Linked DNA regions of Homo sapiens. The protein of the gene in region 2 binds, or shares a complex with, the protein of the main gene of each other region. Each region holds a gene or a part of one and is shown on either strand. Other genes may lie near its edges.

Evidence for each region. The genes of interacting proteins can lie anywhere in the genome.
Region 1: the proteins of FBXO22 (region 2) and BACH1 are in contact, whole or in part, in a cryo-EM structure (PDB 8S7D), measured with the Homo sapiens proteins. Residues at the interface, in NP_671717.1 of Homo sapiens: Asp366, Gly371, Asn372, Phe373, Ile374, Leu375, Arg376, Lys377, Cys378; in NP_001177.1 of Homo sapiens: Ser7, Val8, Phe9, Ala10, Tyr11, Glu12, Ser13, Ser14, Val15.

What each region holds. Positions count from the first base shown.
Region 1 is NC_000021.9:29,336,908-29,343,931, reverse strand, and holds part of BACH1 (transcription regulator protein BACH1), read right to left. Parts: intron 1,534-7,024; coding exon 1,099-1,533; 3' UTR 1-1,098. UniProt on the Homo sapiens protein: Transcriptional regulator that acts as a repressor or activator, depending on the context. Binds to NF-E2 DNA binding sites. Plays important roles in coordinating transcription activation and repression by MAFK.
Region 2 is NC_000015.10:75,899,070-75,906,901, forward strand, and holds the start of FBXO22 (F-box only protein 22), read left to right. Parts: upstream 1-4,808; 5' UTR 4,809-4,894; coding exon 4,895-5,034; intron 5,035-5,421; coding exon 5,422-5,560; intron 5,561-6,506; exon of another isoform or gene 6,507-6,588; intron 6,589-7,832. Other genes in the region: UBE2Q2 (ubiquitin-conjugating enzyme E2 Q2), read left to right, coding at 358-389. UniProt on the Homo sapiens protein: Substrate-recognition component of the SCF (SKP1-CUL1-F-box protein)-type E3 ubiquitin ligase complex that is implicated in the control of various cellular processes such as cell cycle control, transcriptional regulation, DNA damage repair, and apoptosis.

The DNA of each region.
Region 1 (7,024 bases), on a different chromosome or scaffold from region 2:
CACAATAGAAAAAGATTGAGTTTCATCCTATTTCACAAACCTGCAGAGTTGCTGCAGATACATTTTTTATCTGTTACAATCATTTTTACAAGTGAATAATACGACTTCAAAAACAGGGTGAAAAAAATGAACTGCACTCCTGGTAAAAAGTAAGCAACATTCTTTCCCCGTGATGTCTGGTTTTCTGGCATTGGTGACCCACGGTGGAAAAATGAACAGCTTTACATGTTGGTAAGCTCTCCAGATTCTAGGGAGCCTGAGATAATGCTGCCAGTGTAATCACTCATGCCACTGTATTCTGAGTCCTATTTCTTCTTCCAAAGGGACAAAAATGCCAGGAAATAGGAAGTCCATGATGGGACCAGATATGGTAGAGACTGAAGCGGGGGGCAGGGAGGGAAAGTGACACTTAAATCTATTCATGTAGCCAGACTTTCTAGAGTCCATACTGAAGAGGAGAAGCAGCCCCCGTCTTAGGCCAACCACTTGCCTATTTACTAAATCTTCCCAATGTAGCTTAAAGCCTGATTTTAGGAGCCGAAGAACAAAGCCCTAAGATTCAGGTAAGACCATCTTTTTTTCACAATGCAGCTCTACAAAAATATTCCCAGTAGCTGACACCCTGCTTCTAAGAATAGAACTCTATTAGCATTGCTTGGGAAGAAATTTTCTTTCAAACTAAAATATTAGAAAAAAGTCAAATTATTAAACTTCTGCAGGCCACTTCTTTTAGTAGGAACTATCTGTAGATGTTTCAAGCTGTTAAATTGCTGTCTGATATGCTGCAGTTTTCATTCTCCTACTTATTCTGAATAGCAGGAAGAGTTATTACTAGAGTTATTATTCTTTAAAACATGAGTTTTAAAGGTTTACTACATTTTCACATGGATTTTTCTGATATCCAGGAGGCAAAATCATTTCTTTGTCTCTTGTAGAAATCAAGGAGAAATCATGGTTGACTTAAAGGAAATTCCCTTATGGTAAACTACTAAAGGAAAAAAACAGTATTGTTGAGCAACAGATGGTCATATTAGGCTTTCAAGACGCTGCCAAAACTTCAGGAGAAAATTAGATGGTTTGAAGGAAGTGAATGCAAGTTTACTCATCAGTAGTACATTTATCAGTCATCTGCTGACAGAAATCTGAGATCCCACCACTCTGACGACACTGTTCCGCAGGCCCAGCTTGCTCAGAGGTGGCTGTGGACATCTGCTGGGACTCCTGCCCTCGCGCGTAGCCAGGCTCACTGTTTCCTCTGGCACAGGGAGGCAGCACTGCTGGAGGCCGGTCAGATAAACTGAAAATTGATGGTAACGCCAGTTCACCATCAGGAGTACTTTTATCTTTTTCAGAAATTAAAAATGAAAGTGGGCAATCTGCAGCTGAGTACTTGGCGAGTATCTGTATTTGTTCTTGACTCAGAGCTGCTTCTTTACAAACTTTCTGGCAAAGTCCAGTTAGGTTCTGCTTTGTCTCACCCAGAGTTGACAAAATGTGATCTCTTTCCTTCAACAAGCTCTCCTTTTCACTTTGCTGTGAAGTGGGGAAAGAGAACACAATGGCTTGTGTTTATTAGCTCAATCAACATTTCCAAGGCGATCAAATAATATACAGGGGCTTCTCATCAAGTAAGATCACATGGAGTTTATCCTTTCAATTCCATTCAATTATACATTAAATACTAAAGGCCCAGAATCTCCCACCCAAAACTCTTGGGGCAGATGTATTTTGGCACAAAGCATTTTTCAGGTTTTGGAAAGACAGTATGGGTGCACACATAATTTCTCTAGCAGGCCTGGGGCAGCACTTCCCTATCAACTATCTTTACATTTCTAGGTAAACATTAAAATAGCAAATAATGAAGAAAGTAGGATAAAGACTATGTAGTCTAATGTCAATTTGGGGCAGTTTTTCGGTCAAAAGAGTTTGTGACAAACATACGGTTTTTGGAGCTTTCTGGATTTACAGACTGTACATAACAGGTATGGATGGCATTTTGGATGGGATACAAGAAAAAAAGTAAAAGTACAGTTAGCATAACTTAATTACTGAGACTCAAAGCATTGCAAGATTCAACTAATGACCAGCATTTGTTGAGCAGATTCTCTGACAGATATTGTGCTAAATGTTTTCCAACATGCAATCTCAGCTATGTAATCCACACAACACCTCTCTTGATTTAAGCAACATCAAACCCACTGAAGGGATGGGACTGAATTTAAGATGCCTAGAGACAGCCGGTGGGTGAGTTACTAAAGTGTGAAGAATTCGGGGGGGTAATTTTGTGCTTGCTAATTACCATTTTTGTTATTATTATAATTTTAAGATATTACCCCTATAAGAAAGTCTACCACAGAATTTTTCAAAAGTTTTTCTGGTTCCTGCCTTCCTGTCCATGTCACTTATCACTGCTGACAGCATGTCTTTTCTATTATCATCCCATTTCATCCTTCTTGTTCTAACATCTTATTGCTTCTAATCTATTATGAGCCAGGAAACCAAATAATCAAGGTATTTATAAGAAAAGAGTAAATAAACACTTGCTAGAAAGTCAAACGTTTTTCTTATGAAATTTATCACAACTCTCAACAAGTCAGTGTTGTTCTGTTTGCTTTCTGTTCATTGACAGGTTCTGGAGAGTTGAGGCTGCCAGTTAACCTTGAGACAAGTTAGTTCATAGTGCTAATCTATAAGTGCCATCCTTTAGTCTTTTATGACATAAAAGTCACTAAAAGGGTAAAACGAATTTTGCTTTATACAAAAGTATTGTTATGGTTTTATACAAAAGTATTACTATAAAATTATGTATGAATCCAATTATTGTTATTTCTAAAATATTTTAAAGCCTTGTAATATTTTGAGAAAATATACAATAAATACAAAATACTAAATTTTTATATGGCAAAGTATTCTCCAATCTGTTCAGATTTTTATATACAAGTTCTTTTTTTTTTTTTTTTTAAATAGATGTAGGTCAAGAATGTGCGTGTTAAGTATGTGTATGTAAGCAAAATCAATGTTTGGCCAGTACATTTTCTCTTATGCAAAGTTTATCAGTTGCACTCTTCTGATAAAATGAGTCTGCAGATACTGAAAGGGCAAGAACGGTACCTACTGCTTGTTCACAGTAGGAACCATTAAATGCAATCAACACCCATTTCTTTTTATGGTCTCTCAGAAGCCAATCCAAAGGAGGATGAAAACAAAGCTTCCAGAAGAAAGTGAGAAAGAATCTTTCTTCACTCATGGCAATATTCAGCCATGGACTCCTCTACCAAAGTTGGGATGAATCTATTCTAAACAGCAATAGAAAATTTTCAACTGCTGGTTGGTCTTTTAAATTAAATATGGTTCAACAAAATAAGGAGTACTTGAGCTTCCTCCCAGAAATTAGAACCACTACTTAACCTACAGATACTATGAAGATTACAAATATTTTATGACTTCTGTATCTTAATATCCACATGATCTTTAAATACTCTCACTCCTCCCACCCCACTAAATTAGGGATGACATCATTCTTTAAGTATACAAGATGGCTTGCTTCTTCACAACAACTAAAACAAATAGGCACAGCCCTAGAACTCCACCAGAATTATTTCTATAAATTAAATGTTCCCATCTGTTCCCCTGCACTTTAACTCCTACACAGCTAAGCTTCTAAGCAGTTTCCATTTCACTCTAAGTTTAAGACACATATTTACTATAATAGCAGTCAGCTTAATAACTAAAAGTAAAATACAAGTAATTCAAGTTAATTACTTAATGACATCAGTATTTAAGATACCTCCCAAAGTCACTACTTACAGTCATGAGTGGGACTCACTATTAGTGTCCTGCTACCTATCCCTACAATATATTTCCATTTTCCTATAAAAACAACTGTATAAATCACGTTTGAAGTGCTGCACCTTTAATTAGAGCTATTTCTTAAAAAGGAATAAAATTGGCATTCTGGTACCATTCTGGATTTTATACCAACAAAAAATCTTTACAGGCTGGGCACAGTGGCTCACGCCTGTAATCCCAGCACTTTGGGAGGCTGAGGTGGGCGGGTCATGTGAGGTCAGGAGTTCGAGACCAGCTTAGCCAACATGGTGAAACCCTGTCTCTAATAAAAATACAAAAAAATTAGCTGGGCATGGTGGCACACACCTGTAAACCTAGCTAAAAGGGCAGGCTGAGGCAGGGGAATCACTTGAGCCTGGGAGACGGAGGTTGCGGTGAGCCGAGATTGTGCCGCTGCACTCCAGCCTGGGTGACAGAGCAAGACTCTGTCTCAAAAAAAAAAAAAAAAAAAAACCTTTGCATCTAAATCCTTATTTTGAATAGCTAGTGCACAATATTTATTCAAATATAATTTTTTTAAAGATCATAAATATAACTCACCCAATAAAGATATAGAAGAATTTGGCACCAAAAGTACAAGTGACAATTTTATGATAGGGTAAAGAGTACTCACTGTTAGAAAATGGTCACTAATAGTTCCTTAGTAAGTAAAACCTCTGAACGGCAGTTCAGAGAAATCTGCAAATGGCACTGAGAAATATAAGCAAAAATGCTCATTTTCACTCATAAGATAAAAATAAAAGCTACCACGAGATATCATGGTATCTCACTATCAGACTGGAAAAAACCCAAAAGCTGACAACAAATCTTGACTGAGGGTGTGGACAGACACACACACATATACTGCTGCTGGAAGGCCAAATATGACAATTCCTAAGGAGGGGAATCTGTTAATATCTAATAAAATTATGTATGTATTTACCCTTGATCCAACAATCCCACTTCTAGGAATGTGTCCTAGAGACACAGCTCCTTAAACATGAAACAGTATACAGTTATTCACTGCAGGATCCCAACTGTCCACCCACAGAAGACTGGTTTGAACTGTATTACAGTCACTACTGAGTACTATGGAGCTGGAAAACGAATGACAACCTCTCTGAACTAAGAAAAAATATTTCCTATAAATCAATTCTTAAGTTTAAAAAGTACAGAAAAATGTATATAAAATACTTCCATGCAGCAGGATGGATAATAAGAGTAGACATAAAATGTTAACACATTTTTAGAAAAGAAACACAGGGAAAAAAAAATCCAGAAACTAATGAAAATGGTTACCTATAGGAAGTAGCTATGAATAGGGTATAAGGAGAAGATGAGATCAAGATTTGGAGTATATATTTTTTAAAATATAGTTTTAATGTTTGAACCATATAAACGTTTTACATTCAAAATAAAACAAATTAAAAATGTAGGCCAGGCATGGTGGCTCATGCCTAAAATCTCAGCACTTTGGGAGGCCAAGGCAGGAGGATCGATTGAGCCCAGGAGTTTTGAGAGGAGCCTGGGCAACACAGCGAAACCTCACCTTCACAAAAAAATTACCCGGGCATGGTGGTGCGCACCTGTAGTCCTGGCTACTCAGAAGGCTGATATGAGAGGATTTGCTTGATCCCAAGAAGTCAAGGCTGCAGTGAGTCATGACTGTGCCACTGCACTCTAGCCTGGGTGACAGAGTGAAACCCTGTCTCAAAAAATGTAGAGTAAATCCCAGTAATATAAATAGAAAAAAAAATTAATTGTATGCCAAATTGGTAACACAAATATTTCAAATAACTTTAAAGCTTCACACTGGGAAATATTTAAGCATAAAAAAGCAAATAAATCTCAAATTCTGCTCAATTTGTTTACTGTTAATAGTAATACTGATTGTCTAATTTTCTTACTTTTTATACAGTGTGCCCTCACTTAAAATCATCGACAGGTTTTTGGAAACTGACTTTAAGAGAAACAACGCACACCAGGTCCTCAATAAACATTTTGTTCCACATCCTTTCTTTTTTATTTTATTGTTTATTTATATTATACTTTAAGTTCTAGGGTACATGTGCACAACGTGCAGGTTTGTTACATATGTATACATGTGCCATGTTAGTGTGCTGCACCCATTAACTCGTTTTTTTTGTTTTTGTTTTTGTTTTTGTTTTTGTTTTAAGACGGAGTTTCGCTCTTGTAGCCCAGGCTGGAGTGCAATGGCATGATCTCAGCTCACCGCAACCTCCACCTCCCAGGTTCAAGCGATTCTCCTGCCTCAGCCTCCCGAGTAGCTGGGATTACAGGTTTGCACCACCATGTTGGCCAGGCTAGCCTCGAACTCCTGAGCCACCGCACCCGGCACATTAGGTATATCTCCTAATGCTATCCCTCCCCACTCCCCCACCCGACGACAGGCCCCGGTGTGTGATGTTCCCCACCCTGTGTCCAAGTGTTCTCATTTTTACAACATCCTTTCATTATAAAGTTGATGAGGAAAAAAACTGGTTTCATTATCCATCATTTCATGTTAAGTGAGAACTTACTGTATATTATAAAGGAAACAATACACTAATGTAATTGGAGCCAAAATTTTTCCTGTAAATGATGAGAGATTAAACATAAACACAGAAGTGAAGACAAAAGCTCTATACTGCTAAATTTGGACTGGAAATACTACATAAACTCAGGATTTCTAATGTACTTTTTACTTTCATTTACTGAAGCCTGATATATATGAATTCATGATATAATGAACTTTATTTTATACACAGATGCATATATTTCCTAGCTCTGTCCACTGAAAAAGGCCCAGAAGGAATAATACTCCAGCAGCAGGTAGGCTTTCCAAAGTCCAATATAACTGCTAGAAGAAACCAGGAGTTTTAAAGAAATGGGTGATTCCAAATCTTGAAACAATAGAGGTTAAAAAGTGAGACCATGGCAAGTGCTAGATGGTTATGTCAACAGGACAGGAGCTGGCTTGAACGGGCTCTCCCAGGCCAAATTTGAAAAATGTCAACATCAAAAAGAATAATGACTATTACTTATCCTAACAAATTGAATCAGAAAAAATTAATCCATGAGTCCACTGTGATTCCAAAGAGTGGGAGGGAGGGAAAAGAGAAAACAAGAAAAGGCCAGGCATGGTGGCTCATGTCTGTAATCCCAGCACTTTGGGAGGCTGAGGAAAGCAGATCAC
Region 2 (7,832 bases):
GACCAACATGGTGAAACCCTGTCTCTACTAAATACCAAAAAAAAAAAAAAAAAAAAATTAGTGGGGCATAGTGGCGCATGCCTATAATCCCAGCTACTTGGGAGGCTGAGGCAGGAGAATTGCTTGATCTGGGAGGTGGAGGTTGCAGTGAGCTGAGTTTGCGCCATTGCACTCCAGCCTAGGTAACAGAGTGAAACTCTGTCTCAAAAAATATATATATAATATATATATATATTTTTTACGGTAGATTTTAAACACCAAAATTATGAAAAGAGACTGTAGCTAACCTTATTACATGCCAGTTCTTCTAATTTATTTAAGAATTATTTTAACTTTTTTTTTTTCATTCTATTTCAGGCTGGTACACCCCTCCAAAGGAAGATGGCTAAATGTGTTGACTGTTGTATGTTTGGACTAATGTTGCTTTAAAGAAAATCTTTCTAACATGCAGACAAAAGCTTTGAGTGCCCCTATTACAGCAGTACCGAAGATGTTAGTTAATAGATATTTTAGTGGATAATCTGTCATCTGACATCCAGTATAAGTTACAGCCTTTGCATTTTGCTCATTTTAGATATCTTGGACTGAGCAGTGGGGCCTTTACTGTATTTTTCCTGATAAATACACATACTGGCCACTCCTTATCTCTTTTTCTTGAAAAGTGAACTTTTTAAAGCAGCCAAGTCAACATCAGGCTACTGAAGTTGAGGCTTTAGGGTAACTTTCCTATATTGAGCCCATGGGTTACAAGGATTTGCAATATATTGTTCCATTTACAGCCAATACAGGTTTAATCGATGTTCAATATTGGTTTAGGAAATTTAAGGCCTTCTAAATCATAATAGCTCTTTCATGTCTAAAACCATTTTATGATATTGCCAAAATGTGATAGGAAACCTACTCATTAAATTGTTAAACTTTTTAATGACTATGTGAAGATATGAATTGTTTCCTGAAGATAATACTCTTAATTGAGTTGTATTGTACTTCTTAGGCAAAGCAGTGTAAAACTGTATCAATTAAGGCTTGTGAGTAGTGATTTCCACTGGGGCATCAGAGTCTTGGCTGGGCTGAATCTGCTGCTTGTTGGTTCAGTGTTTCTTATGAACAAGAGCCACAGTACAGAGCTTCAAGTTATTTAAAATACTAAGTCATCTTACGTTTCCATTTTATTAACGGGATGTTGCAATCGTTTGTAAACTAATAAACTTATAAAGTGATTGGCACAAAGACTCCTTGAGCAAAAGCTGTGCAGTTAAGTACAAAAAGATACTTAATTTGGAGACTCTTACAGTAATTTTTGCCATGTCAAAACAATGGCTTTTACATTGAAAGATTAATAGAAACTCTACATATGTTAATTTTTTTATAGAACCTGACTCAAATCAAGGTACTCTCCATTTTATTGCCTTACCTGAATCAGTCCTTTTTGGTTGGTAATAGATTTTTTTATACACCCACGTTTGATTTAAAAGTAAATTCTAGTTCTTAAGCACTTTTAACAAATCCAGAAGCACATTTTTCTGCACAAACAAGTTACAAAGTTCAAAAGTGTTTCTTGTGCATTAGCTTTGAGATTCAGTTTTTAACTTTGTAAACCACATCTGAGAGACTTGTCATTTCTACATTGTGTGTGTTTAATTTCTTTTGATTCCATTTTGGTTAAGAGAGCAGTAAATAGATTTTCTGGTATTCTTGTTCACTTGATTACATTTGTATAAAGTTCTGATTGCCAGTTGCTCAGATAACAAGTGACAAGGCAGAATTCTTTAAATCAGTAAAGTTCCTTAAGCCTAAGGCTAAATCTTGAATACATTGTTGAATTCTTTAATATCCTGATGGCAAGCAGACTGATAGCTGCACATTTGGCATGCTTTGTTTAATGGATTTTATTTTTAATTGCAGATTTATTTGGCAATGTACAGTAAATTTTGTAAACTTGCATCAAGTTTATGAATAAAGAACCATTTAAAAATTTTGTTTGTGCTGATCATGGCAAGCAAAAAAAAGATTACTTTCTCATTTTTCCCTCATAAGAAAACTCTGCTTGATGTGTTTGTAGGCTTTATTGAGTTTCTGGAATAAGATATTTAAGGAGGGAAGTGGTGAGGGGAGGCTTGGAAGACAGGCAGATTTAACAAGAGAAAGTGAAAGTGTGAAAGAACCTGGAAATAGTCTGTACAATAGTCACCTTTTCCTCCGCCTTTTTCCTCTTCCATTCTCATTATAAATTCAAGTGCTACTTTTTCCTTATGGCTATCCTTAGTTCCCCCAGTGAAAATAATCTGCTCCTTCCTTAGCATACCCATGGCCTCCTTGCACACAATTGACAGATTATTTCACATACAAGAAGTCCAGAGGTAGGACAACTCCAGGTACTGTACATCTGGGCTTTGCTCTGCTTCCTTGAGATTTTTCTATGTTGGTTTCATCTTTTGGTTGCATGTTATGTGCAGCCCCCTTACTTGATCCAGAGGTAGATAAATGGCCCTGTCTTCTAGTGTCTCCTTAGGAGGTGAGGAAATCTCTAAAAGCACCATCCCATCAAGCACACTGCCTCTTGCCTTTCCTTGGCTACATCAGGGACCTGTGCCCACCCCTAAACCAATGGTGGTGAAAAGAATGAAACCATCGTGATTAGTTTGCACAAATGGTTCTCAAAGCCTTATTTGGGGAACACTGGAGACCCCTGAGACCATTTCAAGAGGTTTTAAAAGACTATTTTCATAATATTAAAACATTTGCCATTTTCACTCATTCTTCCATGTGTACAATGGAATTTTCCAGAGGCTACATGATGTGATTTTGCAACAGATTGAATTCAGAAGCAAATATGAGAATCTATTTGTCTTCTATTAAGACAAATTAAATATTTGCAAAAATGTAGTGATGCCGTCACTGGTAAACTGTCCTCTTTCCCTACTTTATATCAGCCACAAAGAAAGAACGCCCACTTTGAAAGGCAGTCAGGTTTCATTCAGTAGCCAGAGAATGGAGAAGGGGAGCTCATACTCTAAAGGCACCTTCTCCCAGAGGGATGGGAGGCTGGGGAGTTTAAAGAGTTAGCTGAGGGGCGGGGGAGGTATGAACGGCATGCACAGACTGGAGTTCCAGACAAGCAGGCATAGTCCCTGAACATGCTGCTTCATACATCCATGTTCGTAAGATGCCAGTGAGCTTTCTTTAGGGAGAGGATTTTAGCATTATGTTAATTATCTAAAGGTAACTGGAGGGCGCCTGTTTATCTTCCTCTGGTATTCCGCAAGGGGTCAGGAAGCTCTGGTGACATCTGGGCCATCTGGCTTCCTTAAGCAGCTGCGCCTATAAATAGACTATGGGAAAAAACTGGCTGGGCTTGGTGGCTCATACCTGTAATCTCAACGCTTTGGGAGGCGGAGGCAGAGGGATGTCTTGAGGCCAGGAGTTTGAGACCAGCCTGGGCAACATAGACCCTGGGTCTACCAAAAAAAAGAAAAAAACCACAGCTACTCAGGAGGCTTATGCCACTGACAATGTCATACTATCCACCAGTGGGGGAAGGAGGATTTGGGAAATAATTGTTTTCCATAAAAATATTTCGTTAATGTATAACATCGGTTTTTTAAAAAGAGTTAAGCATTAAGATGTTCTGATTTAATTTTTAATATGGTAAATATTGATAGTCATAACACACATAAACTATTGGTCGTGTCAATATTTTAGGGTGTAAAGGGTCCTGAGGCCATAATGAGAACTGCTAATTTAGACCAAGTTTCTGCCCAAGATCTGGCGATCAAATCAGGGCTCCCTTAGGAAGGAATTGGCGGGAGGAATGGATGTTAGGTGGGGACAAACCTGTGTCTGCTGTGCTTCCATTTCTTGGTGGTTCTCAGTTTGAGCATGCATCAGAATCGTCATAAAGTGTGTTAAAACAGATTGCTGGGCCTCACCCCCAGTGTCTGATTCAGGAGGTCTGGGATAAGGACCGGGAATGTGCTAAAACTTAGTAGTTTCCAGGTGAATCTGATGTCCCTGGCGGGGAACTGGTGCACAGCTTGGGGCGTGCTTCACAGCAATCATCTCACTCAGCTACCTTAGAATGGCAGGTGCTATTTATGCCATTTTACTCATTCGAAACTTTAAACCTGAAGATTACAACGAGTTAACTAAGTTTACAAGGAATAAAGGCAGTGATTTTCACACACTAAGACAATTTTTTAAAAGCAAACGTCCGTTTATAAATCGAGCTTATGCTATTTAAACAGGCATTGGGACTACGAAGAGCAATAAGTACTACCTAGTCCCTGCAAGGAATTTGTGAATTAGAGAAAGATGTAAACTCAGAAATATGGCGGTGCCAGGGCAGTGAGAGGCACAGGCACAGAAGAAGAATTTATTTTCACTGCAGGAGGCCTCCTAGAAAGTTGCCAGGAGCGGTGGCTTATGTCTGTAATTCCAGCACCTTGGGAGGCCCAGGCGGGAGTATCGCTTGAGCCCTGGAGTTTCAGACCAGCCTGGAAACCCGTCTCTACAAAAAATACAAAAATTAGCTGGGCGTGGTGGCGGGAGCTTGTAGTTAAAGCTACGAGGGAGGCTGAGGCGGGAGGATCGCTTGAGCCTGGGAGGTAGAAGCTGCAGTGAGCAGAGGCCGCGCCACTCCACTCCCGCCTGGCCACAGCATTAGACCCAATCTCAAAAATGAAGAAAACAGTTCCGAGCGTATTACGGAACGGAGTACACCTCGGAGTACGGGCTCCAGACGAGGGAACGCACCGGCGTTGCCACGCCCACCTTCCCCGTCCAGCCGGAAGTGGCGCGGACGCCTGCTCAGTGCGCGCCGGCCGGGCAACCCTATGCTGGCGTAATCGGGTTCCTCCGAGCCGCCGTAGGACTGGTTCCGGCGGGCTGGTGAGGAATGGAGCCGGTAGGCTGCTGCGGCGAGTGCCGCGGCTCCTCCGTAGACCCGCGGAGCACCTTCGTGTTGAGTAACCTGGCGGAGGTGGTGGAGCGTGTGCTCACCTTCCTGCCCGCCAAGGCGTTGCTGCGGGTGGCCTGGTGAGGAGAGGAGGCGGAGGCGGGAAGCTTGCCTGGGGACACGCCGTGGGCATGTCCCAGGCTGGCGGGGTGGGGGGAGAGACCCTTGGGACCCACCAGGGCCGTCCCCGGCTCGCTCGCCCTACCTGAGGTGACCCCCTACCCGCGAGGTATCTCCCAGCCGTGGTGCCCCGGGGGGACTTCCCTGAGGGGCGAAGTTCCCCTTAAGGTTTTCTCCATATCTGGCTCTTCTTCCGAACTAGCGCCCTGACTGACACCTACCTACCCCGGGGACTTTGGATCCCGCAGGGATCTCCTGCTGCTGCGCCAGCGGGTGGGGGTTTGTGAGCTGTGGGAGAGACGAAAATGAACGTCCGTTCGCAATCCTTTGTGCGTTTGCGTCCTCAGCGTGTGCCGCTTATGGAGGGAGTGTGTGCGCAGAGTATTGCGGACCCATCGGAGCGTAACCTGGATCTCCGCAGGCCTGGCGGAGGCCGGCCACCTGGAGGGGCATTGCTTGGTTCGCGTGGTAGCAGAGGAGCTTGAGGCAAGTAGCAAGGGGTGTCATGCACAGTCATTTGCAGGTTGGTGGTTCAGTCTTTGAGAACTATTTTTTTTTAAATCCCAGTTTTGTTAATTAAAGGAACATCTCGTTCCGTGAAAAGATTTTGTAAACATCAGTTTTAGTGACTACACGGTAAGGATGTGTCATGATTTATTTGACCGTTCATCAAATGTTGGGCCTTTTTTTTTTTTTTTGAGACGTAGTCTCGCTCTGTGGCCCAGGCTGGAGTGCAGTGGCGCGATCTCGGCTCACCGCAAGCTCCGCCTCCCGGGTTCACGCCATTCTCCTGCCTCAGCCTCCCGAGTAGCTGGGACTACAGGCGCCCGCCACCATGCCCAGCTAATTTTTTGTATTTTTAGTAGAGATGGGGTTTCACCGTGTTAGCCAGAATGGTCTCGATCTCCTGACCTCGTGATCCGCCCGCCTCGGCCTCCCAAAGTGCTGGGATTACAGGCGTGAGCCACCGCGCCCGGCATGTTGGGCCTTTTAAGTATCCACATTTTCACTATTAACAACAACGCTGTGCAGAACCTTCCCTTCACCTGCTTCCCTTGAAGCAACTTTTTGTTGTCTGTTTTACCGGGAAGACAACTGGGTGTGTCTTGCTCAGTGAGCACACCTAGAAAGCCAAGAACCAAAACTTAAAGCCAAATATTTCAACTTCTGATCCTGTACTCTTTTGCTTCTCTGGCCCCCAACTTCAAAAGGGGAGCCAACACCAGGAGAGATGAAGACTCGAACTGTGGAGTCAGAGGGGCTGCAGGGTGTACCATCTCTGGGGAGTGGAAGGGAACCATTTGACAGTAAAGTGCCAACCTGCTGCTCTGTCACTCTGTTTACTTTAGTACGGCTTACAGACAGACATAACTACGGTGCAGCCGTCACAATCAGGAAATTATCACTGATACATTTCTACCATTTTATCCTCAGACTCGGTTCAGATTTTGCCAGTTGTCCCAGTAAGGTTCTTCATGGCAAAAAGATCTGTTCCCAATTGCAATTTGCTCTGAGTAAGTCCTGTTTCTTTAATCTCCTTTGATCTGGAACAGTTTCTCAAGCTTTGCTTGATTTTTCCCAATCTTGACACTTAGGAAAATCACAGGCTATTTTGTAGAACATCCATCAATTGTGTCTTTGGCAGGAAATAATCACAGAAGTGATGCTGTGCTTTTTTCACGGCATACTTTAGGTGGCATGTGATTTCCATTCGTCTTGTTATTGGTGGTATTACCTTTGATTACTCAATTAAGGCGATGCTTGCCAAGTGTCTTCACTAAAATCACTCTTCTACTGTAATGATTGTTTTGTGAAGAGATCATTTGAAACTATGTAAATATCGTGTTTCAATTCATTTATTTATTTATATCTGTACACTCTCGGAGTCTTATTTAATTCAGTGGGATATAATCTGTTACTGTATTTTGGTGCTCAAATTACCCCTCTCACCCCCTAGTTTGGCTAGTAGGAGCTCCTTCAGGCTGGCTTCAGTGTCTTTTTAGAGATGACTCCATTATCTTTGAGCACTTTTCTTGTTTTCTGGCACAAGATGTTCTAAGCTTGTCTTGGGTTTTACCTGCCTTGGTCCTGGAATTGGCCATTAAGCCCTGGCTCCTTTTGATGGAGTGTGGTATTTAGAAATCAAGGTCTAGACTCTCTAAGTGTACTCCTTGCCATTGAGGGATTTGCTGCTCCAAAGCCCAGTCATTAGAGCCAAGGAATATAAGTATGTATATACATGCATGTGTATGTATATACATTAGTATATACATATACACACATTTACAATTATATTTCTATATATATGTGGAGGCTCATGAGTTCACACAGGTGCATCCTTTTCGAATCAAACGCAGGATGCTTTCTAGTTTTGTCTCTGCTCATATTTGTACCTCCCTTTTGGGCAAAGGGAAACCTGGTTCTCATCATTCTTAATGTATTTAGATATTACATCAATGCCCCATATGTAACCAATCTTCTGTTTCCCCCTTCCTTGGGTGGTCTTTCTCCTTACCTTGTTTGGGCTCTGGAACTCTCATTCCAGGGAGCTGGCCAGTATCCAAAGGCAGGCTTGTAGAAAACTTTTCTTCTCTGGCACTTTGTCTCAACTCTTCCCATTTTCCCAGAAGTTTATCATTTGGAAAAATTCAAAATGCAAGCAGATTTCCTCGAAAGTGTTCTCTGGAGCATCGTTTATAATAAGGGATACTAAAAACCTAATGTTAATCTAATAAATAAAGCTATTAAATTATAGACT